Regions from separate parts of the Homo sapiens genome. Here region 2 is linked to region 1. Evidence: fine-mapped expression QTL. A gene starts in region 1. The other region holds a variant in brackets. All regions are shown on one strand. Distances are from middle to middle. Region 1 holds the start of ZBED5-AS1 (ZBED5 antisense RNA 1). Region 2 overlaps ZBED5-AS1 (ZBED5 antisense RNA 1).

Evidence for each region. PIP is the estimated chance that this variant, and not a neighbour inherited with it, causes the effect.
Region 2: its variant is fine-mapped to the expression of ZBED5-AS1 in prefrontal cortex (BrainSeq, PIP 0.95).

The regions. Positions count from the first base shown.
Region 1 is chr11:10,849,881-10,865,574 of GRCh38, forward strand. It overlaps ZBED5-AS1 (ZBED5 antisense RNA 1), which reads left to right and starts at 8,337. Exons shown (of 3, transcript NR_034137.1): 1 at 8,337-8,486; 2 at 15,381-15,447. ZBED5 (zinc finger BED-type containing 5) reads right to left here and starts at 8,173. Exons shown (of 3, transcript NM_001143667.2): 1 at 7,982-8,173; 2 at 6,264-6,377; 3 at 2,826-5,206. The coding sequence starts at 5,065. The coding sequence ends at 2,984. RefSeq lists a silencer at 1-189 and enhancers at 7,839-8,218, 8,372-9,009, 8,519-8,608, 9,010-9,645.
Region 2 is chr11:10,868,358-10,884,051 of GRCh38, forward strand. It overlaps ZBED5-AS1 (ZBED5 antisense RNA 1), which reads left to right. Exons shown (of 3, transcript NR_034137.1): 3 at 10,024-10,919. Among named protein-coding and RNA genes, the nearest start is that of ZBED5-AS1, 18 kb to the left of the region's middle. The variant CT/C (reference allele first, on the strand shown) is at 10,135.

The DNA of each region.
Region 1 (15,694 bases):
CACCAGACCCACCTTCACGTACTAAAAGTCCATTCTCACTAGCTGTGCATGGTATCCATAATTTAGTCCTGATACGTTACAGATGAGGTGAACAGCTGGCATCAAGAACCAAAATGGGTACGGTCAGCATTAAAAAGGTCTAGTAGCAGACAGCAGGGTCTCAGATAATGGACTTGGACTTAAGAGCAGGAATCTAGTCTCCAAGGAGGTTAGGGGAAAAGGACTGGAAAACAAGAATGGTTTTATATTTTAAGAGGCTGACATCTTGGACAAATAATCTAATGAAGGGCTCGAACTCAGCAATCGCAGGAGTCTAGTTACCAGGCTTGAGGTATATGCTGGACACAGATATTAAGGAACTGCACATCCTTCTCAAACTAGGGTATAATTCTGGGACTAGTAAATAAAAAGCATTGCATATATAAGAAATTATGATACATCTTCTAAGGAATTAGTAGTTGACAGCAATTTACTCTATATTTTACATGAAAATTAGTCATATTTTAAATTAGCCAATTTCGGTGAATTTAGAAGTAAACACAAGACTTCAAAGAAATGTCCAGATTCTAGTAGGCAGTTTCAGGCTGTACTTCCAAGTCACTGTTTGTCTTAGAAAAGTTCAGAAGGCAATGATGGGAAAAAGCTCTGTATTTGGGAAAGACTTACTTTAAACTAAATCCTGCTAATTACCTATGACCTAGGTCAAGTCCAAAAATGACTGAATCCCATAAGATTGTTGTAAAGATTATAGATAAATACAAAGCAACTATTAAAGTGCCTGACAGGCTGGGCGCAGTGGCTCACATCGGTAATCCCAGTGCTTTGGGAGGCCTAGGTGGGCGGATCACCTGAGGTCAGGAGTTCAAGGTCAGCCTGGCCAACATGGTGAAACCCCGTCTCTACTAAAAATACAAAAATTAGGCCAGCTGTGGTGGCTCATGCCTGCAATCTTAGCACTTTGAGAGGCCGAGGCGGGTGGATCACCTGAGATCAAGAGTTCGGGACCAGCCTGGCCAACATGCAGAAACCCCGTCTCTACTAAAAATACAAAAATTAGCTGGGTGTGGTGGCACGTGCCTGTAATTCCAGCTACTCGGGAGGATGAGGCAGGAGAATCGCTGGGGGATGGGGGGCGGGCGGGGGGTGGGGACTGAAGTTGCAGTGAGGTGAGATCACGCCACTTTACTCCAGCACAAACAAAATTAGCTGGGGGTGGTGGTGCACACTTGTAATCCCAGCTACTTCGGAGGCTGAGGCATGAGAATTGGTTGAACTTGGGAGGCAGAGGTTGCAGTGAGCCAAGATCGCGCCACTGTAATCCAGCCTGGGTGACAGAGCAAGACTCTGTCTCAAAAAATAAATAAATAAAATAAAGTTCCTCACAGACAAATAAGTGCTTAATAAGGCAACAAGGAGGAAAAACCTGGGCTAGAAGTATGTAATCTTGTTGCCTTGGATCAGGAAATGTCCCATGGTCTAGTAAACTGTTGAGTCTCCAGAGAATAAAAATCCAGATTAGAAGTGTGAAGTGTAGACTCAACTTTAACTGGAACATAGTTGGATATGGCAGAGAACTAATATATGCTGTACACCTACTCCTGATCATCAACTGTTAGGAGCTTTATATTTATACATTCACATTTAATCTTGATAACAACCCTTCAAAGGAGGCGTAATTGTAATTTTATAGATGAAACAACTGAGGTTCAAGTTCAGATTACCGTACATTACAAAGTAAAGTAGGTACTTGAACCTAGTCATTTTACCACATTCTGCCTTAATGGTGGGGGGTGGTACCTTTACTCCCTAAAATGGAAGTTTCAATAAATGAGATTAAATAATGGTTATCTACAGTAGTTCTTGACTACAGGAGTAACAAATATTTAACACTGAGTTGGTGAACTGTGTTGCATGACGTGATGTAGGAAAAGTAGCCCAGAGACAGGAAATTCAGTCAGGAAATTTTTACAGTATTATAAGAACAAACTGATTTCTGGTCTAAGCATCTCTGACTACAGTAAAGTCTCATTAATTTATACTGCATGTGGAATTTACAATAATCTATATAGGAACTGAGAAAAAAACAAAGTATCTGAAAATACTCTTCACACTTCATCCCCTCTCCCTCAATAGTTCAGCCTGAATCATAAAACTATGACATTCCTCGATGACCTCTGCATAATGGCCACACTGAACTCTAGTTAATAGAGTAAGTGAGCCAAAAAACCCAAAGGGTAGCAGTGTGTACACCTGCTACCATACCAATCAATGAATGTAGGAAATCCCCCATTCCATTTTTTGTTGGTTCACTTTCACCAACATGTTTTTCCTTTACTGAGCATCTAATTTAGTAAAGCCTTTTTCCAGATTATGGAGACACAGATTTGGATAAGACTCAATAAGACTCTCTAAGAGCTTAGTCTGAAAACATTGGGAACCGTGAGACCATCAAGGAGTTCACAGTTGAGACAGACACAAACATTAAATACAAGTGTGAAACAGCATCAAAATAGGAAGATACAGAGAATGAAAGTACCTACAAGTCAAAGTGTTGAAGCAAATAGGAGCCTACCAGAAAGTAAGATGGGGACAGAATCGCTTTTTGAGACCTGAAACGATAAAACAGTGTGATATGTTTAGGGAATGGCAAGAAGTTCCATGGGATTGGAGAGCTGCAGAGTAGACACGGAAAGATTGGTAGGGATTAGATCCTGAAGAGATATGTTAAGGGACTGGGACTTTATCTTGGGGATCATTATTTCCCAGTTATGATCATGGAACTCTTTAAAATTACAATGTAAAGAAATACCAATAATAACACAATATGTTTAAAACGTTTGATTCTTTAGCCTTCTTAAAATCTAAATAGTATAAAAAAATGGAATCATTTTATTTAAATCCCCCAAATACCAGAGATGAAGTAAATCATCTTTTATTTTCATCTTACATTTGGTTATCATGAGACATGCAAACTCCTCCAATTTTAATGAGAACAGTGTTTTTGTGTCTTTTTATCACATATCCGCTTAATATTAGGTGTAATATTGCTAAGTCGGATTCGCATATGAGGTGCAGCATCAAGTCTTTTCCTATATTTTGTTTTTGTTGCAGCGTAATATGAAAACCCCGTTTCACACAGGTGCATTGTAGCAAAAGGAAGAAGTACACGCACTGCACGCCTTGCAATGCTTGGGTATTCCTGAATTAGGCTACTCCAAAAATCATTTAGTGAAAGTTCACTAAAATTTTGCTTCACTTGAGAATCAGATGTTAAATCAATCAGGCTCTCATAGTCCCGTGCTACTAATGAAGCTGGTTTAACAGTAACTGTAAATGGATTTCTAACCCAAGCATTATTGTCATTTGTTACAGGAAAGTATTTTAACAGAGTAGCGCGCAAACCCCTTAGGTGCTGCACAATGGCACTGCAAATATCTTTATCAACTGTAGAATTAATTTCAGTCAAAAAATCACTGAGTGTAGGAAAACAATCAAAGTTTTCTTCTTCTACAGATGAGGCCCAAAATTCCAATTTTCTTAACAATGACGACATTTTATCAAATACTGTAAAAACGGTCACATTTTTTCCTTGCATTGACAAATTAACTTCATTTAATTTAGTAAAAATATCTGCAAGATATGCAAGTCTTAGCAGCCAAGATGAATTTGTTAAACAATCAGATAGTCGAAAAGCAGAATCCATGAAAACCAAAAGTTCACGACGAAGTTCAAAAAGTCTTACAAGAACTTTACCTCGAGAAAGCCACCTCACCTCTGTATTTAGAAGAAGTGCTGTGTGCTGAGCACCCATTTCCTCACATAAAATTTTTAATAGTCTGGATTGATGTGGTCGAGCTTTAATATAATTGATGATTTGTACTGCCTGGTCTAGCACATTTTTTAGAGATGTAGGCATTATTTTAACTGCCAGTGCATGTCTGTATAATAGGCAGTGACTACTGGTGCTTTCGGGAGCCACATATTTTATTAAGGTGACAGCTTCGGCAATTTTCCCATCCACTGCCCTAGAAGCATCACTACAAACATCAACACATTTTTCCCATTCAATTTCATGTTTCTGCATAAAACTGTTGATACAGTTGAATATTTCTTCACCGGTAGCATTACTTTGCAAAGATTCACACAGGAGTAGGTCTTCCTCAATAGACTTATTAAACCTATAACGAACAAACACAAGCAGCACAGCAAGTCCTGAAACATCAGCTGATTCATCTAGTTGCAGTGAAAACCCATCGCAAATTTTCAGTCTACAAACAAGCTCTTCTTCAATGTCAGCAGCTAGATCCTTAATTCGACGTGCAACAGTACTGTTTGATAGCTGTACTGCATCTATTTTTTTACTATATTGTTCATCAAACATCCGCATCACTACATCTTTTGCACAAGGTTTGATAAGCAATTCTCCAATAGTATGAGCCTCTCCACTCAGCGCTATATGGTAACTTACATTGTATGATGCTTCTGTAGCACTTTCATTATCTGTATTCACAATTTTAGGTGTTGGGGGTTTATTATTTTCAGGTGAATCGAGATGTTGCTTGAAAAAGCTTATGTCTTTGTCTTTATATGCAGCATGTTTAGTTTCCAAATGTCTTCGAAGCTTACTAGGGGCTAAAGAGCTATTTGATAAAATTTTCTTACATAATACACACTGAGCATGAGGTGCATCTCTATTTCCGAAGTAAGTAAATCCAAAAGACAAATAACTTTCATCATATTTTCTTCTTTTTGGTTTTTTACTAAATGTTATTTTGTTGGAATTGGATATAAATTTGACCCTGGAAAGCTCACCTTCTGATTTTTTAGAAACTGAAGGTTGCAACTGCTTATCTTCACTTTGTAATATTCCAACCTTCTGATCATTTGATTCAGACACAATCTGATAACAGAAAGATTCCACTTCTTGTTTAAGACTTCCTTGTTTCAGCAACAGATCCATGGGCAATGAGTTTGTGGTACAAAACATGGTTAATTTAGAATAGACATTGAGTATCGCAAATGTGTTGAAATTATAAGACAGGATACAAAGAAGAGGAGCAATCATCAAAGAGATGATATACAGCAACACATCAGTTAATTTGTAAATGCTGCCTATTCATCAATGCGCAGATGGAACATCATACGTTCATGTATCAGGTGATCTCTCATGCGACTTCCTGGTGCTCTCAGGTATGGTACACCTTTTCTTAAAGGTAGATTATCACATAAAAATAAAAGCTATAGAAATGAGTTTAGCAGTCTTAATCTCATATTTAAATAAACATATTAAAATCAACCATAAAGAAAAACCAATATTAGCATCAATCATTTTCTCAAAACATTTATTAACTTAGAGAATATTAATATTCTATAAAACATAATTTGGGAATCACTGAGCCAATAAATTATTAAGAGTTGTTATACATATTTTTAAGAAAGGGACCCTGAAGAATATGTCCCATGGCAGGGGTTGGCAGGCTTTTTTTGGTCAAGGGCCATATAGTCTCTGTTGCAACTACTCAACTCTGTAGTTGTAACATGACAGCAGCCATAGACAATACATGAAAGAATGGACACAGGTGTGTTCCAATAAAACTTTACGTACAAAACCAGACAGCATGGGCCATAATTTATCAGCCCTGTCTCATGGTATGTAGTATTGTGAAATCTCTTTTAGCTTTTGATGCCTACTGTCATTAGATGTATTAGTTGTTGATACTATTATATATCTGAAGTCCCTTCAGGGCTAGCAACAATTCTGAAGAAGTGAATTAAACACACACACAGTTCCAAGTTTTGCGAGATACATAATTCTACTGTATCCTAAATGTTATGCGTTAACAATGAAGAATAAATTGTATATCAAAAGTTAGGTACTGTTTCTCTGGACTTAAATTATATAAACGTTTATATTATCCAAATTAAGACTCAATGAAAGTAATGTATATTTTTACAGATAACTCTGCATTCTATTTATACAACAGGTGACGACTTAACCAGGACCTAAAAAAAAAAAATAAACTCTCATTTAAGAGGTTTATTTCTCATATAATAAAACAAATCAAAATTAAAAGGATAATGCAATCTAAGGATTGCTAAAGAATACTATTAACTCTATAAATCAAGGCATACAAATTATGTCTGTCCAAATATAGCTACTTTTGATTTAAACTTTATAACCTGGCTATAGAGTAAGTTTTGTATTCTCATGTTAGATCTTGAGTCAAAATGGTTCTCCTATTAAGGGGTAGAGGATAAGATACCTGAAATAAGGTGTTCTCCTTTCTGTAATCCCTCTCTCCACCTTGGCAGCTTGAAATGCACTCTTCAAAAGAATAAAATTAAGGGATGGGGTGGGAAGGGGAGTAACCAAAAGCCTAGAATGAGAAAAATTAAAATTAGATACAGTAACAAGCAGAACTAACTATAAACCCGTAAGATGGGTTTATTCTTTCTGGATCTAAGCAGTGAAAATGATTCTTTACTGCAATGCAGATCTTGGACTGAAAGAGAAGACGCCTAGCATAGTAAAAATTCTAACATTTTCATCCTGTTCAATATCTTGGCAATTTAGATGCTTTGAGATGTTCCCCCACCTACTGACTTCATAGAAACATGTTAAAACAACACCACCACCACACTTTCTAGAACTTGAAACTAAGCCTAATTTTTAAAAGTACAACCTCATCAATGTCTCTAAAACTAGGTCTTGAATCTAAAATGGAATTATACATAGAACTATTACATGAAGCAGTTCTTTCACTACAATCATTTTTAGCCCCCCAGTGACCAATCTCCTCAGGTAAACAATGTCTAATGACTGATGATTGTTTACTGTATGCCAATTACTGCTAAATCCCTCATATAGATTATCTCATCTATGAAGACACAAGGATTATTAATAACCCCACTTTAGAGATAAACAGACACAGGTTAACACATCTCGCTAACACCTCTTGTAAGTGAAAAACCAAGTTCAGAGCCCAAAAAGTTTGACTGCATAGCCCATGTGTCTAGCCATTACTTGGGTGTTCCTGAATACTTTTAATTCCCCAACTACTAAAAAATCTCGTTACTAGGAGTTGGGTTATGCAGCGAAACGGATGAACAATGGATTATAACTGCCAGAAAGTCGAGGGTCTCATACTAGCAACAGCATAAAGCCCTGCTTCTTATTGGGAGCAAAAAAGCAGATTCTCCTTCCACAGTCTCCTTTTGGATTTTGCAACGGAGAACTCTGTGGAGCTGCTGGTTCACGTAAAAGATCAGGATCCCTCTCGTTGCCAGAGGACACAGAAGAGTAGGAAGCTTTTGTTTTCAGAAAGAAGGTCCTCAACCCCACCTCTTCGAAGGTGTTTCCCCGAATTTCTCGAGGACAAAGAATCTGGACTCCTTTGAGAGTAAAGTTTCCTTTCCACTCCCTGAAGAGCGGGGAAAACTTCCGTCTTTAGTCTCCTTCCGGTTAAACTGACAAGTATCACAATCCTTTCTCCCCTATCTTCGGGCGGTTCCGGCTGGGAACAATACCCTCAGGGTCAGGAGGACAGGATCTGAGTGCAGGCCAGCCAAAAAGGTGGGAACAGATGCTCCTTCCAACACCTAAATGCTTTTTTAAACGGTCACCTGGATGTGCAGCCAGGGCCAACTATCCCTCAGCTCCTCCCTGTCACAGGTGCGCGCTGCCCACAGATTGCCACGACTGGGGGGCTCCCTACCAGTCGCAGCCCACCCTCGCCTCAGGTCTTCTCTCGCGTCCCCGGGCGGCCGCCTGCGCTAACGACCACATGAAAACGTCTCAGCACCCAACACCATCTCTCTATTTCATCTCCATCAGCGATGGAGAGAACGGATTTTGCCGCGGCTGGGCTGCACAGCAGCGCCGCGGTCCACAGCAGAGCCCGCGACCGCCATCTTAGGCAGTTCCAGGAAGCGGCCATTTCAGAGCGCACCGCTTAGCCGCGGCGGCGGCTCTGCTTCTCACCTTCACCGAGGCCTGAACAGGGTCAACAGCCAGTCGTCGTGGACTGGAGGGGGAGGGGAGAGAGGGAGGGGAATGAAAAACAAAACAGAGAGGAAAGAAGGATTCGGGGACAGGGTGATGCTCTCAGCTCAGGGATATCGCCTAGGCCATCTCCATAGAGATCCGATTCGCGGCTGGCGCGGTCGCCGGTCTGAAGATAAATTTAGCACTCTAGAGCACCCGAACCCTACAATCTTCACGAGCGACTCTGCCGCCGCCCAATCAGCGCCAGATTTGCGTCCCGCCACCAATCCGCGCTGAGCAGCGGGGCGGGACCAAAGGAAAGGACCAAGCTCGGTTGAGGCGCGGCCCAGCCGCAGCCGCAGTCACAGCCTCAGCCGCAGCGGCCGTGCTACCTAGGTGATAGCGGAGCGGCTGGGTAGGAAGCAATTGTTCTCAAACTTCACTAGCCCCGTCGGCGCGGACGCTTGTCGAGAATGCAGATTCCTGGGTACTGCCAGATACGGTTGGTGATCTTGTAGGGCTGGAGTGGAAGCCATGAATCTGCATTTTCATCATTTCTGGCCCTCTGCCCGGGCTGGGGTGATTCACGGGGATTCGTAGTGGCCCCAAAGGAGCACGCAGAACCTCGGCTGCTGTGCATTTATCACCTCTTTTGTTCCCGGAGGCCGCACCCCAGGTCCAGTTTACACAGCTGCCAACTCCTTTTCTTGGTTCCCACTGGAATCTAGGAAGAAAACTCGCCCTTTACTTCTCCGCCCCACACCCGACGACGGAGTGTCTAGAGGTCTGGTCGGCCTTGGCTGTGCGGAGGGCTAGGCCTGACGAGCGGGCGCTGATGCGGCGCAGACCCCGCCGGACCTCTTGGTCGGCCCGGGGTAGGCTGGGGAGCCGCGGGAACAGGACTGGATAGGGAAAGCGGCACCGCAGCGTCCACGGGCAAGCTGAAAGTCCGCTTGATGTCTTTGCATCACAGTGGCGCCCTCCCCGCAGGAACGCCCGGCCGCCTGCACCGAACGTTTGCCTGCAGGGAACGGCCAACCCGCCCTGAAATACTCTTTTTGTGGGCTGCAGCTTTCGGGTATTTTAAGCCATGGTTCTGTGCCCTTCCTTGTTTTCAAAAACACCACAGCCAAAGGCTGCGGGTTGTGTGCTTTCATTTTGTGTTAAGTTCTGTGGTGGAGACCTGGAGTCTGTTTTTCCAAATAGGCACCTTGAAATAGATACGCTTCTTAAGCGGGGAAAGTACGAGTAGGTCCTATTATTTGCAATGTTTTAGCCTTTCCAGACTCCGTACAAATGACTAAATGAAGATTGGATCGTATTTTCAGGCACTGCACCAATGATAGAAAATTCTCAACTTGGGGTCAAAAGCAAGGGCAGCTTTCGTTTTTCTTAAATATGCTTCTGATCAAATATCTAAAGTGTTGAAAGAAACCTAACCCTTAATAGCACAATTTACAGGAGTGCATAATTTCCTAGGACTGACATTTAGTTCCAAATGTTTTAAAGTCAATTACAACATCATCTCACCCTATAGTAAGCTGTCCATATATTCTCATTATTATTTTTAAATTATTTCTATTAAATCAGCTTCATTTGAACTTTAACCATAAATGCATAAATCGTTTTTGGGAAGGGGGTACAGTCGCGCTTGAAGAGCAAGGGATTTTGTCATTGCGGGAGTTGTCTGGCTTCAGAATAATATTGGAATAATATATTTTCGTGTTTCATATTTTAGAAAAACCTTTTACATATGTGCTCCCAAACCAATCTTTTTTTATTTTTTATTTTTTTTATTATTATACTTTAAGTTCTAGGGTGCACAACTTGCAGGTTTGTTACATATGTATACATGTGCCATGTTGGTGTGCTGCACTCGTTAACTCGTCATTTACATTAGGTATATCTCCTAGGGCTATCCCTCCCCCCTCCCCCCACCCCACGACAGGCCCTGGTGTGTGATGTTCCCCACCCTGTGTCCAGGTGTTCTCATTGTTCTATTCCCACCTATGAGTGAGAACATGTGTTTGATTTTCCTGTCCTTGCCATGGGCTCCCAAACCAATCTTTACACATCTTGTTTACATCTTCATGAAGAGGGAAAACCCAAAATATTAAACTGTTAGGCAGAATAGTGTTTAAATAAGTACATCTAAAGTTTAGGAATTAGGTCCTGATATGATTTGACTCTGTGTCCCTACCCAAATCTTATATCGAATTTTAATCCCCACGTATGGAAGGATTAAAGTGATTGGATTATGAGGACGTTTTCTCCCATGCTGTTCTGATAGTTAAGTGAATTCTCACACGATCTGATGGTTTTATAAATGGTAGTTTTTCCTGTGGTCTCACATGCTCTCTCTCACCTGCCGTCATGTAAGACCTGCCCTGTAAGACGTGCCTGCTTCCCCTTCCTCCATGATTGGAAAATTTTGTGAGGCCGCCCAGGCATGTGCAGCTGAGTCAATTAAACCTCTTTCCTTTATAAATTACCCAGTCTCGGTATTTCTTTATAGCAGTGTGAGAATGGATTAATATAGGGCCCCAAATCTGAAGTGTCTCATAATTAAAGTTCATGAAACTTAACTTTTTTTGTAATCGTTTTGTCAAATTATTACAGAATGTTGATGGGACAGATAAGAAAAAATACAGACAATGTAGAACTCAGACCAGTAATACATAGCTAGCATTTATTGAATACATAATGTAGGCCGGGGAGCTATTGTATACGCTTTTTTTGTTTTTGTTTTTGTTTTTTTGAGTCAGGGTCTCACTCTGTTGCCTAGGCTGGAGTGCAGTGGCACGATCTTAGCTCTGTGCAACCTCAACCTCCCGGGCTCAAATGATCTTTCCACCTCAGCCTCCTGAGTAGCTGGGACTACAGGTGCATGCCACCGTGTCTGGCTAATTTTTGTATTTTTTTATAGCGATGGGGTTTTGCCATGTTAGCTAGGCTGATCTCAAACTCCTGGCCTCAAACGAGTCACCCGCATTGGCCTCCCAAAGTGCTGGGATTACGGGTATGAGCCACCAGGCCTGGCCTATACACTTGTAAATTTATTAAGTCTTTTACTGTTCACAACAATTTTATCAGTTGATTAACCTTATTTTACAGATAAGGAAATTAAGCACAAAGAGGTAAATAACTTGCCCCAGTTCCAAGAACTAATTAGTGGCAGAACCTGGATTAGGTGTGATGCTGGTTGTGGGAACTACAAACTGTGTTTATGTGCATACTTGATTTATATTAGGCAGAAAACTATTGTGAATAATATTACAGTAATGTATTAGGTAAGGAGGCTGAGCCTTACCATTAAAAAGGACCCTGATCAGCCACCAAGAAGTCCTTGGCCAGGCATGGTGGCCAATGCCTGTAATCCTAGCACTTTGGGAGGACAGGGCAGGAGGATTGCCTGAGCCCAGGAGTTTGACACCAGGGCACCATAGCAAGACCCCATCTCTATAAAAATAATAAATGCATAAATAATACATAAAATAATAATAACAAGAAAAAGTCCTCCATTGTTCTAATCTCTAAGACCAACTTTTCTCTCCAATTCTTCTGCCATCACTCTGGGCTTACTATCAATTTCCTTAACCAATCTCTTAGCTACCAGACAATCTCTATCAAATTTATCCTACACACAGAAAAGCACTTTATCTAAAATACAGACATTAAAGTCTTTTTTTTTTTTTTTTGAGATGAGGTTTCACTGTTGCTCAGGCTGGAGTGCAGTGATGCCATCATGGCTCACTGCAGCCTCAACCTCCTGGGTTCAGGTGATCCTCCCACCTCAGCCTCCCGAGTGGCTAGGACTACAGGCACGCACCACCACCACCACACCAGGCTAATTTTTGTATTTTTTGTAGAGATGAGGTCTCGTCATGTTGCCCAGGGTAGTCTTGAACTCCTGGGCTCAAGTGATCCTCCTGCCTCAGCCTCCCAAAGTGTTAGGATTACAGGTATGAGCTACTGTACCCAGCCTAAAGTCATTTTTTTACTCAAAGTTATCCCCTTTTTGGCATGATCAACTCTTTAACTGGGCATTTAAGGTTTTCATTAAACTGGTTTTGCTTTTCTTTTTTACTTTTTACAGAGACAGGGTCTTGCTATGCTGCCCAGGCTGCTCTCAAACTCATGGGCTCAGGCAATCTGTCCGCCTCTGCCTCCCAAAGTGCTGGGGTGGCAGGCATGAGCCAGCCACCACACTGACCCAAAACTGTTTTTGCTTTTAAAATTTGTTTTCAATGTTACACAGTGACAGTGCTAGGTGGGAAGTAAGGCAACTATGGACAGGAATGTCTGGAGCTCCCTCTCCTTAGCTAGTGATCTTGTGATGTGTAGTTTACTTGTTCTGGCTTAAAGGCCCAAGTTTGAGGTATTCTTTTTGTTGTTTTGTTTTGATTTTAATTTTTATCCAAGCAATGCAAGCATAGAGTTTAAAAATTCAAGTAGAACTAAAAATATTATAGACAATAACAAAAAAACATTTCTTGGCTCCTTCTTCAGATGCAATCCCTTGTAACATTTTATGCCATTCAGGAGTTCCAGACCAGCCTGGGAAACATAGCAAGACCCTGTCTCAAACAACAACAAAAACAAATCCAGTAACTCTTAGGTTTGTGAAAATTGTCAGAATCAAGATAGAGTCACTAGTGTGGGGGAAAAAAACAAACAAACAAAAAAACCCAGACAAATAGAACCCAGGAAGGCCATTAAGAGGATTCTCATGCACAGATGCCTGCTAACAAAAACTGTCACAAAACACTGCAAAACCACAACCTTGCACAAACGCTGTCAAAATCTTAGACAAAAAATAGTTCTTCAAGGACATCTCCCCAGCAACTCCCTGTGCAGTCTTGGGCTGCTGTCACCCTTGTTACTGATCTTTGTAGCCAAAGATAATTATCTCAAAATAATTATTATAATCCTCCACATTTTTTCCTTTAAAAACCTTTGTCTTCCCTTACCTCCCTGAATGTGCACATAGTTTACTATGGCACACATATTCCCACTGGAATGCTGTATTCCCAAATAAACATCGTTTTCTTCTAGAGAGCCTCCCTCTGTTATTTAGATTGAAAGATTAATACTACTGTTTTTAGTTTCCACTTCCCTGAAGCAGGAAAAAATTTATATTCCTCTACTTGTGTAAGAATTTGCCTATGCAAATGTTAATTGGCTCTATAGTTACTGATTATTCCAGTGATATTTCAGTGCCCCTTTCAGATAAATGATTTGGGCAACGCCCCAACTGCTTACCTTTTAATCCAGATCTGGTTGTGGTTAAAAAAAAGAGCAGGAATATACAAAAATTAACTGGGCATGATGGGGTGCAAGCCTATAATCCCAGCTGCTCCGGAAGCTGAAGCAGGAGAATTGCTTGAACCCAGGAAGTGGAGGTTGCAATGAGCTGAGATCACACTGTTGCACTCCAGCCTGGGTGACAGAGCGAGACTGTCTCAAAAAAAAAAAAAAAAGGCCAGGCGCAGTGGTTCATGCCTGTAATCCCAGCACTATGGGAGGCCGAGGCAGGCAGATCACCTGAGGTCAGGAGTTTGACACCAGCCTGGCCAACATAGTGAAACCCCGTCTCTACTAAAAATACAAAAATTAGCTGGGTGTGGTGGTGCACGCCTGTAGTCCCAGCTACTCAGGAGGCTGAGACAGGTGAATCACTTGAACCCAGGAGGCAGAGGTTGCAGTGAGCTGAGATTGAACCATTGCACTCCAGCCTGGGCAACAGAGTGAGACTCCGTCTCAAAAAAAAGAAAAAGTCAGGATTGGTGTGTACAGCAGGTACAGCAGAAGGTGAAGGAGGGCAGTTCACTCAGAAAAGAACTGTGGCAGATATTGCAACATCTCTAGTGTAATTCTCTTTGATTTATAAAAGGCTAATTACTTTGTTACTTTAAATCATGAAATCATGACACACCTCACAAATAAATGTCATATACTCCTTTTCTAAACCCTGTAGTTGAAACTATTGGTCTAGAAAATAAACTAATTATTGGGCCCCAAATTGAGAGGCTTGAATATTACAAATCAGACACTTTCTCATATTTTCGGGGAGAAGGACAGGTTTACTTGTATTGAGAACCCAAGTTTCAAATAATAATAATTTAATTAAAATAATTTTTTTGAGATGGGGTCTCACTCTGTCGCCCAGGCTGAAGTGCAGTGGCACAATCTTGGCTCACTGCCACCTCCGCCTCCTGGGCTCCAGTGATTCTCCCACCTCAGCCTCCCTGGTAGCTGGGACTACAGGTGCCCACCCCCACTCCCAGCTTTTTTTTTGTATTTTTGGTAAAGATGGGGTTTCACCGTGTTGCCCAGGCTGGGCTCAAACTCCTGAGCTCAAGTGATCTGCTCACCTTGGCCTCCCAAAGTACTGGGATTACAGGTGTGAGCCACTGCACCTGGTCCATTAATAATCATTTGTCTGGAACATACAGAGTACCTTCACAATCTCTCTCTCATTTGAAACTTGAGACAACTTATTTAATTAAGCAGGGAGGTATTCTTATCCCTATTTACAAGGAATGAGGAATCTCAGGTTTAGAGAAGTTGATGGGTTTATGCAAAACTATATGCAACATACAGTTTTTGGAATAGACAGTGCTTGGATCAGTTTTCCTGATTCAGATCAGTGTCTTTTATACTTCCTTTTCTTAAGAAAGTTTTCAGGATTGGGATAATGCAGTTACAAAGTACTTCTGCTAAGTTATTGATCTTGGGCTAAATAATATAGTCAGAACTGTCATTTGGAAAAATAGTATGTTCTTCCAGAGTTGCCCTCTTACAGAAGGTGAAAATTAATCTTACTCCCTTAACTTTCTCGGGAAGGTTGATGTTAAACTTTTAAAAGCCATCCCTTTAAAAAGAATGCTAGATATAGACAATTTTTAAAGCCAAAGTGAAGGTTTACAGGTCATTTAAACACTCAATTACTTGGGGAGAAACTGAAATGCCAGCAGATGGGGTTATTTATAGCACTGTGCTGAGAGCCAGTATATATATTTATTTGTACGAGAGTGGAATCCTGGCTCTGGATCATTTCCTGACTTGTTTGAGACTCTAAGCAAGTCATTTATTATGTCTGTATTTTGGAATTATAGCCTTGCCTCAAAGGTGTGCTCTGTGATTAAATGAACTTCTATTTGTAAATCTTGTTTAAATTTCTCTGATGAAAGGCATATCAGTGTTGATAGCTGTGGAGGATAAGAACGCTGACAATAATAATGAGTACGATAATATCAGTGCCTTGGATTTATGCAGTATCATTACTTCGGGGCTTTGCGTGCCTCCTATGTAGTATGTAGTCTATAACAAAAAACTGTAATTACAAACATTTCACAAGAAATCATTCTTATTGTGATATTTTTATTACTTGCAGAATTGAGCATACCACAAAAAAGTTCTCATTTTGTGTCCTCCCATCCCATTCTCCTCACTAACCAAAGGTAACCACAGTTAATTGTTTTTTATATATCCAGATGTATATGTATATATATTAGTGTATATGACTGATATATTTTATAAATTATTCCACAATTTATAAAATATTTATAATATTTTGGCCTTATCAATATGCCTTGAAGAAATTTTCATGTCAGCATGTAAATCTTTCTTTTTAATAGGTGCATAGTTTCCCAGTTGATTTATTTAATCATTCCCTTATGAAAAGATTCTTGAGTTGTTTCTAATTTT
Region 2 (15,694 bases), 18 kb after region 1:
ACCTCTTAGATTAAAAAAATTTAAAGTTTATTTTGAGATAACTGTGGATTCACATGCAGTTGGGAGAAATAATACAGAGAGATCTCATGTACCCTTTACTCACTTTTCCCCAGTAGTAAAGTCTTACACAACTCCAGTACAATATCACAACAAGGATGTTGACATTGATACAATCAAGATAAAGAGAATTTCCATCACCTCAAGAATCTCTGGTGTTGTCCATTTATAGTTACACTCATTTCTCTGCCACTCCCACTTAACCCCTGGCAACCACTAATCTGTTCTCTGTTTCTGTAGTTTTGCCATTTCAAGAATGTTATATAGGCCAGGTACAGTGGCTCATGCCTGTATTCCCAGTACATTGGGAGGCCGAGGCAGGCGGATTGCGTGAGCTCAGGAGTTTGAGACCAGCCTGGGCAACATGGTGAAACCCCCATCTCTACTAAAATATAAAAAATTAGCCAGCGCCTGTAGTCCCAGCTACTCAGGAGGCTGAGGGTGGAGAATTGCTTGAACCCTGGAGGCAGAGGTTGCAGTGAGCTGAGATCATGCCATTGCATTGCAACCTGGGCGACAGAGAGTGTTATATAAATGGAATCATACATTATTAGATAACTTTATGAGATTGAAGTTTTTTCACTTAGCATAATTCTTTGGAGATTCACCCAGATAGTATAACAATAGTTCATTCCTTTTTATTGCTGATCAGTATTCCATGGTATGGGTATACCACAATTTGTTTAACCCGTTACATGTTGAAGGACATCTTGGTTATTTCCAATTTTTGGCTATTATGAATAAAGGTGCTATAAACTTTTGGGTACAGGTTTTGTGTGAACATGAGTTTTCATTTTCCAGGATATAGGCCTAAGAGTGCAATTATATGCATGGTATAATGGATGGTAATTGCATGTCTAACTTTTTAAAAAATTGAAAAACTATTTTCCAGTTTGGCTGTACCATTTTACATTTCCATTAGCTATGTATGAATGATCAGGTGTTTCCACATTCTTGCCAATATTTGGCATTGTTACGATTTATGTTTTAGCCATCCTAATAGGTGCATAGTGATATCTCACTGTAGTATTAATTTGCGTTTTTCCCATGGCTAATATGTTTGAACATCTCTTAATGTGTTATTTGCCATCTGTATATCTTAATTGATAAAATGTCTCTTCATGTCTTTTTGTTTATTTTCTGATTGGATTTTTTTTTTTTTTTACTGTTGTGTTTTAGGATTTTTTTTTGTTTTGGTGGGGGCACAGGATCGTGCTCTGCCACCCAGGCCGGTGTACAGTGGTGCAATAATAGCTTACTGGAACCTTAAACTCCTGGGATCAAATGATCCTGTGGCTTCGGCCTCCCAAGTAGCTAGGATGCCTGGCTAATTTTGTATTTTTTTAGAGACAGAGTCTCACTATGTTGCCCAGGCTGGTCTCGAACTTCTGGTCTCAAGCAGTCCTCCCTTTTTGGCCTCCTAAAGTGCCGGGATTATAGGCGTGAGAATTCTTTACATATTCTAGATGCTAGTCCTTTGTTGAAGTTTAATATTTTCTATTTGTCTATTTTGGTTTTTGTTGCCTGTGTTTTTGAAGTTTTAGCCATAAATCTTTGCCTGGACTAATGTTCCTGAAGCATTTCCTCTATATTATCTTCTAGTATTTTTTATAATTTTGGGTCTTAAGTTTATGTTTTTAATTCATTTTGAATTGATTTTTGTATGTATGATGCCTCCAGCTTTGTTCTTCTTGCTTAGGATTGCTTTGTCTATTCAGGATCTCTTTTGGTTCCATACGCATTTTAGGATTTTTTTTTTTTTTTTTTTTTGAGACAGAGTCTCGCTCTGTCACCAGGCTGGAGTGCAGTGGTGCAATCTTGGCTCGCTGCAATCTCTGCCTCCTAGGTTCAAGTGATTTTCCTGCCTCAGCCTCCTGAGTAGCTGGGACTACAGGCACCTGCCATCACGCCCGGCTAATTTTTGTATTTTTAGTAGAAATGGGGTTTTACCATGTTGCCCAGGATGGTCTCTATCTCTTGACCTTGTGATCCACCTGCCTCAGCCTCTCAAAGTGCTGGGATTATAGGCATGAGCCACCGCGCCCAGCCCAGGATTTTTTTTTTCTATTTCTGTAAAGAATGTAATTGGTATTTTTGTAGGGCTTGCATTGAATCTGTAAATTGCTTTGAGTAGTATGGCCATTTTAACAATATTAATCCTTCCAATTCATAAGGATGAGATGTCTTTCCATTTTTTTGTGTCCTTTTCAATTTCTTTCATTGGTGATTTATAGATTCCCTTGTAGAGGTCTTTCACTTCCTTGGCTAAATTTATGCCTAGGCATTTTGTTTGTAGCTATTGTAAATGGGATTATTTTATTGATTTGTTTTTCAGCTAGTTTGTTATTGGTATATAAAAATGCTACTGATGTTTGTATGTTGATTTTGTATTCTGCAACTTTACTGATTTCATTTATTGGTCCTAAAAGTTTTTTGGTGGCATCTTTAGGTTTTTCTATATATAAGATCATGTTGTCTACAAAGAAGGACAATTTGACTTCCTCTTTTACTTTTTTTTTTTTTTTTCCTGAGAGAGAGTTTCACTCTTGTTGCCCAGCCTGGAGTGCAATGGCGCGATCTCTGCTCACTGCAACCTCTGCCTCCCAGGTTCAAGTGATTCTACTGCCTCAGCCTCCTGAGTAGCTGGGATTACAGGCACATGCCACCACACCTGGCTAATTTTTGTATTTTTAGTAGAGACGGGGTTTTGCCATGTTGGCCAGGCTGGTCTCGAACTCCTGACTTCGGCTGATCTGCCCACCTTGGCCTCCCAAAGTGTTGGGATTATAGGTGTGAGCCATGGTCCTGGCCACACTTCCTCTTTTTCAATTTGGATGCCTTTTATTTCTCTCTTTTGCATGATTGCTTGGGTAGGACTTCCGGTACTATGTTGAATAAGTGTGGTGAAAGTGAGAATTTTTGTCTTCTAGTTCCTAGAGGAAAGGCTTTCAGCTTTTCTCATTGAGTAGATTAGCTGTGGGTTTGTCATATATGGCCTTTAGTATGTTTTGGTATGTTCCTCCTGTGCCTAATTTGTTGAGAGTTTTTATTGTGAGGGGATCAAATACTTATCTACATCTGTTGAGATAATCATATAGTTTTTTTGATGTAATGCAACTGTTAATGTAATATATTAATTCAACTGGTACCATAACAATCAATGAGTGGTAGGAAACTCCCTATTCCATTTTATTTGTTCACTTTCATCAACATTTCTTTTTTTAATTGGGCATCCAATTTAGTAATGCCTTTTGCCAGATAATGGAGATAACATTATTCTTTATCTGAGGTGGGAAGATTGCTTGAGTCCACGAGTTTGAGACCAGCCTGGATGTCTTAGCAAAACCTCATCTCTACAAAAAATACAAAAATTAGCCAGGCATGGTGGTGTGTGCCTGTAGTCCCAGCTACCCAGGTGGCTGAGGCGGGAGGATTGCTTGAGCCTGGGAGGCAGAGGTTGCAGTGAGCCGAGAACAGGCTGCTGCACTCCAGCCTGGGCAACAGAGTGAGATTGTCTAAAAACAAACAAACAAACAAACAAACAAAAAACAAAAGTTATTATTGATATGTGAGAACTTATTTCTGTCATTTTGTTGTTTTCTGCTTGTCTGTATATCCTTGGTCCCTTTCTTCCTCTTTTACTGTTTACCATTGAGGTTTAGTGGATTTCTGTAGCAGTAATGTTTGACTTCTTTCTCTTTCTTATTTATATATCTACTGTACCAGTTTTACATTTGCATGGGTTTGCTTGTTGGCAAATATTGTCCTTTTGCTTTCAGATATAGGACTGACTTAAGCCTGTCTTGTAGGACCAGTCTAGTGGTGATGAATTCCCTCAGTTTTTGCTTGTCTGGCATTTTATTTCTCTTCATTTTCGAAGGATATCTTTGCTAGGTTTAGTATTTTTGGCTGGTAGTGTTTTTCTCTCAGCACTTTAAACATACCATTGTATTCTCTTCTGGCCTGTAAAGTTTCTGCTGAGAAATCTGCTGTTTGTCTGATGGGGATTCCCGTATACATGACTTGATGCTTTTATCTTGCTCTTTTTAGAATTCTCTTTGTCTTTGACTTTTGATAGTTTGACTATAATATGTCTTGAAGAAGACCTTTTTGGGTTGAATCTATTTGAGGATCTCTGAGCTGTATCTGGGATGTCTAAATCTCTTGCCAGACTTGGGAAGTTGTCAGCTATTATTTTGTTAAATAGATTTCCTATGCCTTTGCTCGTTTCTCTTCCTTCTGAAACTCCCAGAATTTGAACATTTGGTCACTTTGTGGTGTTCTATATGTTATGTAGGCTTTCTTCATTTTTTTTTTCCGAGTTGTCTTCAAGTTCAGAAATTCCCTCCCCTTCCCCTTCCCCTTACCCCTCCCCTTCCTCTTTCTTTCGTTCTTTCTTTCTTTCTCTCTCTTTCTCTCTTTCCTTCCTTCCTTCCTTTCTTTTTTTCTGAGATGGAGTCTTACTTTATCACCCAGGCTAGAGTGCAGTGGTGCAATCTCAGCTCACTGCAACCCCCGCCTCCTGGGTTCAAGTGATTCTCCTGCCTCAGCCTCCTGAGTAGCTGGGACTACAGGTGTGTGCCACCACGCCCAGCTAATTTTTGTATTTTTAGTAGAGACATGGTTTCACCATGTTGGCCCAGCTGGTCTCGAATTCCTTACCTCAAGTGATCTGCTCACCTCGGTCTCCCAAAGTGTTAGGACTACAGGCATGAGCCAATGTGCCCAGCCAGAAATTATTTCTTACGCCTAATCTAGTCTATTGTTGAAGTTGTCTATAGTATTTTTTATTTTATTCATCAAATTCTTCAGTTCCAGGATTTCTGTTTGTTTTTTCTTTTTTCTTTTTTTTTGAGACGGAGTCTCGCTCTGTCGCCCAGGCTGGAGTGCAGTGGCGCGATCTCGGCTCACTGCAAGCTCCGTCTCCCGGGTTCATGCCATTCTCCTGCCTCAGCCTCCTGAGTAGCTGGGACTACAGGCGCCCGCCACCACACCTGGCTAATTTTTTTGTATTTTTTAGTAGAGACGGGGTTTCACCATGTTAGCCAGGGTGGTCTTGATCTCCTGACCTCGTGATCCGTCCGCCTCGGCCTGCCAAAGTGCTGGGATTACTTTGGCGTGAGCCACCGCACCCGGCCACCTGTTTGTTTTTTATTAAATGATATCTATTGCATTGTTGAATTTTTCATTCAGATCATAAATTGTTTCTTTGATTTCTATTTTTTACCTGTGTTCTTTTGTAACTCACTGAGTTTCTCTGTTCTTTTCAAGCATTTCATAAATTTCCTTTTCTTTCAGATCTGTTATCAGAGAATTATTGTGTTCCTTTGGAGGTGTCATGTTTTGTGTTTGTGTGTGTGGTTTGAGACAGGGTCTATCTTTATCACCCAGGCTAGAGTGCATAGTTCGCTGCAGCCTCAAAGTCTTGGGCTCAAGGGATCCATCTGCCTCAGTCCCCCAAGTAGCTAGGACTATGGGCATACACTACCAGGCCTGGCTACGTTTTTATTTTTCATAGTGATAGGGTCTTGCTATGTTGCCCAGGCTGGTCTCCAACTCCTGGCCGTAAGCAATTCCCCTTGTTGCCTTATTAAGCACTTACTTATCTGTCAGGCACTTTATTTTATTTTATTATTAATTTTTGAGATGAAGTCTCGCTCCGTCGCCTAGTTTGGAGTATAGTGGCATGATCTTGGCTCACTGTAACCCTGCCTTCTGGGTTCAAGCAATTCTCATGCCTCAGTCTCCCGAGTAGCTGGGATTACAGGCATGCATCACCATGCTCGGCTAATTTTTTGTGTTTTTAGTAGAGACAGTGTTTCACCATGTTGATCTTGAACTCCTGACCTCAGGTGATCTGCCCCCCTCAGACTCCCAAAGTGCTGGGATTACAGGTGTGAGCCACCACACCCAGCCTCCAGTGCCTTTAAGTAATTTTAATTTTTTTTCCAGATTTTATTATTGTTATCTAAATGAGGGTTAGTATAACCAAGGTACTCTGCCAGTATGGGCAGATGAAAGTCCCTAGTTACTGAATTTTGTGTGTTGATCTTTTTTTAAAAGTTTTAATTTTAAAACATTTAAATAGTTTTTGGAGTACAGGACAAGTTCTTTAGTGGTGATTTCTGGGATTTGGTGCATCTGCCACCTGAGCAGTGTACATTGTAACAAATATGTAGTCTTTTATCTCCCTCCCACCCTTCCCCCACCCCAAGTCTCAAAATTCTGTTAATTCATTCTTATGCCTTTGTATCCTCCTAGCTTAGCTCCTCCCCACTTATAAGTGAGAACATGTGATATTTAGTTTTCCATTCCTGAGTTACCTACCTTAGAATAATGGCCTCCAGCTTCATCTGAGTTGCTACAAAAGACATTATTTCATTTTTTTTTTATGGTTGAGTAGTATTCCATGGTGTATATATACACCATATTTCTTTATCCACTGGTTGGTTGATGGGTACTTAGGTTGGTTCCACATTTTTGCAGTTGCGAGTTGTGCTGCTATAAATGTGTGTACATGTGTCTTTTTCATATAATGACTTGTTTTCCTTTGGGTAGATACCCAGTAGTGGGATTGCTGGATTGAATGGTAGTTCTATTTTTAGTTCTTTAAGGAATCTCCATACTGTTTTCCTTAATGGTTGTACGAGTTTACATTACCACCAGCAGTGTAAAAGTGTTCCCTTTTGACCATACCCACACCAACATCTATTGATTTTTAACTTTTAAATTATGCCCATTCTTGCAGGATTAAAGTGGTATCTCATTGTGGTTTTAATTTGTGTTTTCCTGATAATTAGTGATGTTGAACATTTTCTCATATGTTTATTGCCTCCTTTTTTTTTTTTTTTGAGACAGGGTTTTGCTCTGTTACTCAAGCTGGAGTGCAGTGGTGTGATCTCAGCTCAGTGCAACCTCTGCTTTCTGGGCTCAAGTGATCCTCTAGCCTCAGCCTCCTGAGTAGTTGGGACTACACGTATGAGCCACCATACCTGGCTAATTTTTGTACAGATAGGTTTTCACCTTGTTGCCCAGGCTGGTCTTGAACTCCTGAGCTCAAAGTGACTCACCTACCTCAGCCTCCAAAAGTGCTGGGATTACAGGCTACCACGCCCAGCCTGTATATCCTCTTTTGAGAATTTTCTATTCGTGTTCCTTGCCCATTTTTCAATAGGCTTATTTTTTTTTCTTTGTTTGAGTTCCTTATAGATTCTGGTTATTAGTCCTTTGTTGGATGCATAGTTTGCAAATATTTTCTCCCACTCTGTGAGTTGTCTGCTTACTATGTTGATTATTTCTTTTGCTATGCAGAAGCTCTTTGTTTAATTAGGTCCCATTTATTTATTCTTGTTTTGTTGCATTTGCTTTTGGGTTCTTAGTCATGAATTCCTTGCCTAAGCCAATGTCTAGAAGGGTTTTTCTGATGTTATCCTCTAGAATTTTTATTCAGATCTTAGATTTAAGTCTTTGATCCATCTTGAATTGATTTTTGTGTAAGCTGAGAGATGAGGATCCAGTTTCATTCTCTATAGGTGGCTTGCCAGTTTCCCCAGCTCCATTTATTGAATAGAGTATCCTTTCCCCAGTTTGTGTTTTTGTATGCTTTGTCAAAGATCAGTTGGCTGTAAGCATTTGGTCTTATTTTTGGATTCTCTGTTCTGTTCCATTGGTCTACATGCCTATTTTTATACCAGTAACATGCTGTTTTGGTAACTGTAGTCTCATAGTATAATTTGAAGTCAGGCAGTGTGATGCCTCCAGATTTGTTCTTTTTGCTTAGTATTGCTTTGCCTGTATGGGCTCTTTTTTGGTGCCATATGAATTTAAGAATTGTTTTTTCTAGTTTTGTGAAGAATGATGATGGCATTTTGGTGGGAATTGCATTGAATCTGTAAATTGCCTTAGGCAGTATGGTCATTTTCACAATATTGATTCTACTCATTCATGAGTATGGCATGTGTTTCCATTTGTTTGTGTTATCTATGACTTCCTTCAGCAATGTTTTATAGTTTTCCTTGTACAGATCTTTCACCTCCTTGGTTAAGTATATTCCTGAGTATTGTATTGTATTTTGCAGCTGTTGTAACAGGGATTGAGTTCTTGATTTGATTCTCAGCTTGGTTGTTGGTGTATAGCAGTGCTACTGATTTGTGTACATTGATTTTGTATCCAAAGAGTGTACTGAATTCGTTTATCAGATCTAGGAGATTTTTGGATGAGTCTTTAGGGTTTTCTAGTTATATGATCATACTGTCAGTGAACAGCAACAGTTTGATTTCCTGTATTTCTATTTGGATGCCCTTTATTTCTTTCTCTTGTCTGATTTCTTTAGCCAGGCCTTCCAGTAGTATGTTGAATAGAAGCAGTGAAAATGGCATCTTTGTCTTGTTCCAGTTCTCGGGGGAATGCTTTCAACTTTTCCCCATTCAGTATTATGTTCAGTGTGAGTTTGTCGTCTATGGCTTTTATTGCTTTGAGTTATGTCCCTTCTATGTTGAGAGTTTTTATCATAAAGTGATACTGGATTTTCTAAAATGCTTTTTCTGCTTTTTTGTTTTTAATTCTGTTTCTGTAGTATATCACATTTACTGACTTGTATACATTAAATCATTCCTGCATCTCTGGTATGAAACCCACTTGATCATGATGTATTATCTTTTGATATGTGATTGGATTTAGTTAGCTAGTTTTTTGTTTTTGTTTTTTAGGATTTTTGCATCTATGTCTATCAGGGATACTGGTCTGTAGTTTTCTTTTGTTAAGTCGTCTCCTGGTTTTGGTATTTGGATGATACTGGCTTCACAGAATGACTTAGGGAGGATTCCCTTTTTCTCCACTTTTGGAATAGTTTCAGTAGGATTGGTACCAATTCTTCTTTGAATGTCTGATAGAATTCAATTGTGAATCCATCTGGTCCTGGACTTATTTTTGTTGCAATTTTTAAAAATTACTGATTCATTGTTACTGCTTGTTATTGGTCTGTTCCAGGTTTCTATTTCTTCCTGATTGAATCTAGGAGGGTTGTATATTTCCACAAATTTGTGTGTTGATCTTGTATTTGCCCATTCTTTACTAAATATCTTATTAGTTCTAAAATTTCAGCTGTAAATAATATTTCCCTTTCTCATGTTGGTACCTCTTAATTACTTTTCTTATCAAATCTCATTGTCTACAACTTATAGTCTAAACTTGGAGATGACACAGCAGGTATCCTTGTCTTGTTCCTGACTTTAGTAAGAATACTTCCAGTGTTTCATCATGAAAGCATGATATTTTAGGTAGGCTTCTAATAATTCTTCGTTAAGGAGTTTCTCTTTTTAAATTTAGAAATAAGTATTTAATCTTTACAATGCTGTTTTTAGCATTTACCAAGATGAACACATGATTTTCTCCTTCAATCTGAGTTTATGTAATTAATTACATTATACATTTCCCAATGTTGAGGCATCCTGACGTTCTTAGAATAAATCCTACTGGGTCATGATGAATTGATTTTTAAAAATATTATAATGTTAGATTTAATTAGGTAATACATATTTATAATTTTAAAATTCATATTTGTAATTGAGACTTGCCAGAGATTTCTTCTTTTGTTTTCATGGTCTATTGTCCTCCAGCTTTGACATCAGGTTTATGCTAATCTTTAACAGACACTTAGCCTGCCAACTTGATGTAATCCACAGTAATGTCTCCCTGTAAGATTTCTGAAGAGATTGGTGTGAGGTAGATATTATTATCATCATTTTTTTTCAGATGTGGTAACTGAGGCACATTGAGAATTATAGTGTCTAACGTTTATGATATAAGTCAGTGACTAGCAAACTACTTCTTATTTATGAAAATACTACAATTATTCTTTTAATTTCTGGGGTTGAGAGGAGGGCAAAGAATTATTACTCCTGTGATCCTCTCCAGCTACTCAAACTAATATTGTTGTTTATTTCTGTTTCTCTCTGTTTTTACTAGGCTAGGAATTATCTGTGAATGTAGGACCACTGGATTTGCAGTCTTCATCTGACACTGTGGAGAGTTTCTAGGAATGAAACAGATATATGGCCTTGGGTCCCCTTTTTTTTT[CT/C]TTTTTTTTTTTTTAATAGAGACGAGCATCTCACTATGTTGCCTAGGGTAGTCTTGAACTCCTGGCCTCAAGCAATCCCCACCCGACTCCGCCTCTCGAAGTGATGGGATTACAGGCATAAACCACCACGCCTGGCCAGAAGGTGCTTTAACACCAAATCTGAAAATTGTTCAGAAGAGAAACATTGAGCATGAACACCATCTGTGCGAGTCATTTACTTATTGCCCCTCACCTCTAAATCTACCTTCTGTACTCTTCTTCCCTGTAATGATGGGGCTAGTTGTCCTCAAACTGTTTCTCAGACTTCTTTTTAAGCTTGCTTCCTGTTCAGTTCTGCCAATAGGGGTCACTAGAGAGAGACTGGGAGGCAGAAGGAGAGAATATGCTTCCTGTTTTTTCTGTTCTTGTTAATGTTGCTTACAGGACCAGCAATGCTTCTTCACCTAGAGACACTTCTCCCAGCAGTGGCAGTGCCACTTCAGCTTCTTTCAGCACTACTGGAATCAGCCTCAGTGATTCCCCCTGTACCCGCTCAGAGATTATCCACAGCAGCCAGATGGTTCTACCTTCCACAAAGATTGTGGTTGCAATTCTGGGCTTCTAAGTTCTGGTTACTTCATATTTTTCCTTTTGTTCCTCCAGCCCTAGAGGTGGTAGCTGCTTTCTGAAGTTATTATTTCTAGATGACTTTTGGTTTTTCAGCCTTTGTATTTTGCTTTTCAGCCCTCTAATGCCTGTATAACCAATTTCCCTGTAATAAATAAATTTCCTCCATTGAAATACCTAGTATGGCTTTTTTTTTGTTTGTTTTTCTGACTGGACTGACATAAAGAGGACTGCTCATTATATGCCAGCTCAGAACCACTTAATTATGAAAATAGTATATTCATTGTCTCCACTCCTCCAAAAATTCTGAGATTAATTTGTAGATGTCGCCGGCCTTGAATGAAATGCTTAGTTCCTTGCCAATGGAAAACAAGATTCTGGTAATCTATAACATAAGTAGGATCATGATTAATTAAAGTATCATCTATGGTTTCTTGGGAAAAAATACCTATTGAAGTAGTTGCCTTCAGGGATCAAGTGGCTGCTGCATTTTACCATTGTGGTAGTACAGATGACAACAAGGACTGTGAGTGGGATGACATCTATGCACTGGAAACCTTACAGGCAGAAAGTGACAAATTGAAGACTTTGAAGTCTAAGTTCAAGTCAAATTGAGACAGAGAACTTCTATAGCAACTTTGAAAAAAGTTTCTGATTTCTTATAGCTATAAGATCAACATTATTAAAAATATAACTAGGTGGGTTGCAGAATTAAAATGGAAATTAAATTTAGAGACTCATCAAGTCATTTATGTGACAATCAGGGCACTGGGAGCAAGCGGGATTCTAAGACTTGCGTTGGACTTGGATGAAGCTAAATGCCCAGGTCCCTCTGAATAAGCAGAAGCAGTCCCTCTTATAACAGAGAAGATTGCCAGGCGCGGTGGCTCACGCCTGTCATCTAGCACTTTGGGAGGCCGGGGAGGGCGGATCACCTGAGGTCGGGAGTTCAAGACCAGCCTGACCAACACGGAGAAACCTTGTCTCTACTAAAAAAATACAAAATTAACCAGACGTGGTGGTGCATGCCTGCAATCCCAGCTACTCAGGAGGCTGACGCAGGAGAATTGCTTGAACCCGGGAGGCTGAGGTTGCGGTGAGCCGAGATCACGCCATTGTACTCCAGGCTGGGCAACAAGAGCGAAACTCCGTCTCGGGAAAAAAAAAAAAAAAAAAAAAGGCTGGGTGTGGTGGCTCACGCCTGTAATCCCAGCACTTTGGGAGGCCGAGGCGGGTTGCGGTGAGCCGAGATTGCGCCATTGCACTCCAGCCTGGGCAACAAGAGCGAAACTCCGTCTCAAAAAACAAAAACAAAAACAACAGAGAAGATTGACCTTTCCTTCTTGAAAACTCTATAATCAATTCATCTGAAGCAGCTGCCTTACAAGGGATACTTATTATCCTCAAGACCCATCCCCATTGCTGATTATTTTTTAGTCTAGACCTAAACTTGAGTTAGATCTCAGCATACTCAAACAGAATGGAGATTCAGACCTGGGGATAAATTGCCTATACCTAAAAAAAAAAAAAAAAAAAAAAAAAAAAGCAGGATTTTGATAATTCATATAGAAAAAACCAAGAAAATATGTGTGAGAATAGTATACAAGGGTGTTAGGCTAAAAGGAACAGAATATAATTTTGTCTCAGGATTAACATATTGATATAAGAACATTTACCAGATAGTCTAGATTTAATGTTTTAGATAAAGCTAGAAATGGCTCTAATAGCTTTCTGGAATGACTAAATTTTTGCCTCATTGATGGCCTACATTCGATGAAGTTTGGTGCCATAACTTCTCTTGCATAATATTTGAAAGGACTCCAAAAGCTAAAGAGATAGGAATGTTGGAATAGATTTTCATATGAGACCAGTGTACCCATTTCTCTCTCCTACATCTTTCAAGAAGTCTCAGAGGAGATTTCCTTCCCTAAAGCAAAAAGAAAAACATTAGTGAGGAAGATACGAGGATCCTTGACAAGCTCTGTGGTGTGTGTTCTTTATAGCCCAGGAATGATCATGGAAGATACTGGCATTGAAATGGACATAATACCACCGTTTATTCACCTTAATAATATTTCTCTGCCCGCTTTTCTTTCATAAACACACGTGAAGTCCTATTCTTCTGGAGCAAGAGGAATTGCTAGAGGAAGTGAAAAGTGTTTGCATTTCAGATCTCTCTTATTTTTGCCATTGACTGCTGAAAAATTTTGTCTAGCTACTCTAGGGAGAGGTGGGAATTTCAAAGATTGCTGAAGATAATAGCAGACCTGGCCCAAGTGTTCTCAAATCCTAACTCTTAGTTACTAAAATGAAGATGAAAAATGAGGGCAGTTATACAAGAAACTAAGATAATGTGTTATCAGTTAGGACTGCCATTTTTCCAATTCTCCTAGGACCTGTAACTCTACCAATGACACCCTTTTAAAAATTTCAAATTAAGTCACCAGAATTGAGATAGAGAAAGTAATTTTATCACTCTTCAAAGAAACTACATTGGATTTTTCTGGAGAGCCAAGCCATTTCACTGATAATTTTAGTAGAATGATTTGCATGTTCTCAGAATTTTATTGAAACATTATTGATTTACTGAAGGGCCTTATCACTGACATAGTAATAATTTGTTTCCTTCACTGAAAATAAGAAGTCACTTTTAAAAGGAAAAGAAAATTTGTGATAGTCTGAAGGAGAATGTATCTTGTAGCAGATTCATATATATCTAAATTTAAAAAATTCAATACCAACTTGTCCATAAATGCACCAAACCTTGGTTAATACATAGAACTCTTGGTGATTAAATGCTTAACCATCATCATCTGTAAGAATCCAAATGCTTGTCCTGAGGCTTTGCCTGTGCCTTAAAATCCTACATATTAGTACTTTACCATCTTTACAGCTCAGGTCTTGTAAATCCTAGGGCGCTAGGGGAAGAAAGTACCTGCCAGGGTATACAAACTCATGGTATGTTTGCCTAAGGGTAGGGAGCCATAAAACTGGCAGCAGGCGATTTTCTTTTCTTTTTATTATAGGTCATGCATTTGATCTCCCTACTTTTCTCAAATTTGTATGGGGCCGGGCCAGCAGCTCTGCATTTGAGTGGGTTGTATGGGAATGCTTTCATTTTCTCTGCTAAACCTGCTCTCAAATTATCACTTTCTAGCATCTACTGATGGATCTTAGGGATGTTCATGTTTCCTAAGAAATTTAGCCCCATAAAAGGTATGAAGAGATTTACCCAAGTAGCAGATAAAGTTAAGGGATGTCACTTCCATGATGTGCAACTCTCCCACTAGGGTTGCAGCTGGGACACTATCAATATTCACTTTTCCACCCCTCCCATCTCCTTTTTACCCCTAGCCATGGCAAACATGGAATAAATACAGCACCGATTCTCCACATTTTTTATCTCAAGACCACTTTGCACGCTTAAAAATTGAAGATTCAAAGGGCTTTTGTTTGTGAGTTGCTGTATTAGAAATTGAAATGAGAGAAATTTTTAAGAATTGATACATCCTAAAACACAATAATAAACCTACTACATGTAAATATAAATAACATATTTTATGAAAAAGTACTGTTTTTCAACACAAGAAAATTAAAGAGTAGCACTGTTTTACATTTTTACAAATTTCCCTAATGACTGCTTAACAGAAAACAGTTGGATTCTCAGATCTGCTTCTGCAATGGGTCTATTGCAATATATGGCTTTGGTTGAAGTATATGAATAAAATCCAGCATTACACAGATATGTACTTGAAAAAAGGAGGAGTATTATAATAACTTTTTCAGATAAGTGGGGATAATCTTCTTTGATACTACACCAAAACTGGACAAGTCCTAGCTAGTTTCTTAAAGGATGGTTCCAATGTGGAATCTGAAACCACAGCAGTGAAAGTTATGTAGTCTATTATGTTAAAATCTAGTGCCCTATTTTGTACCTTGAAAATTTCTATTACCCATGCATGATTTTGTACCATGATGCACTGGCCATTTGGAAAATATTGGTTCATTGAATTATGCATATCTTTCAAATGTTGACACATTTCTTTGTACAGCATCAAAAACCACATTCATTAATATTACCACTGATTTCATTAAAAAAAGTCATAGTATTGTGATGATGTCAAGCTTATAGTGGCATATACAAGTTTCCCAAAATTCCAATTTTTGCTTGAAAGCTAGAATGTTATCATTGGATACAAATACTGCCAGTTGTTTTTCTTGCAGACTCACTTCATTCATTTTTGAGAAAATGTCTGACAGATAACCAAGTCTGAATTACTGTAGTTTGATGTCTTGTTCTTTCAAGAAAAAAATGGTGTTCCGTAAAAAAAGCAGCTAATTCAGCTTGCAGCTCAAACAATTAATTGTACAAGTGCTTTTTCTTGAGATAATCATTAGATTTTGGTATTCAATAGAAGTGCCTTATACATCCCATTTGGTCACACAGAATGTTAAAAGACCCAAAGGTTGAGATTTTGATGACATTAATAATTTTTACTGCTTCACCAGGGCATTCTTATGTGAAACAGTTTTTTTCCCCCTCCTGTGAGTACCTGGCGATAAAGAATATAATGACTATTAGTATCAGTTAAGTGTCTGCTTTGGTTTAAATGTTATTGTTTCCTCTAAAATTCATGTGTTGAAAACTTAATCCCTATGGCAACAGTATTGGGAGGTGTATGGATTAATGATGTTATAAAAGGGCTCACAGGAATGAGAGTGGCCTTCTCTCATTTCTGCTCTTCTGCCATGTGGGGACCTGGCCTTCCTCCCCTTCAAAGGACACAGCATTCACGTGCCATTTTGGAAGCAGAGAAACTGGGCCTTCACCTGCCAATGCCTTGATCAACTTTCAGAATTGTGAGATAATTAATTTCTGTTCCTTATAAATCATGTAGTCTCAGTTATTCTGTTATATTAGGTTGGTGCAATTACTTTTGCACCACAATTTTT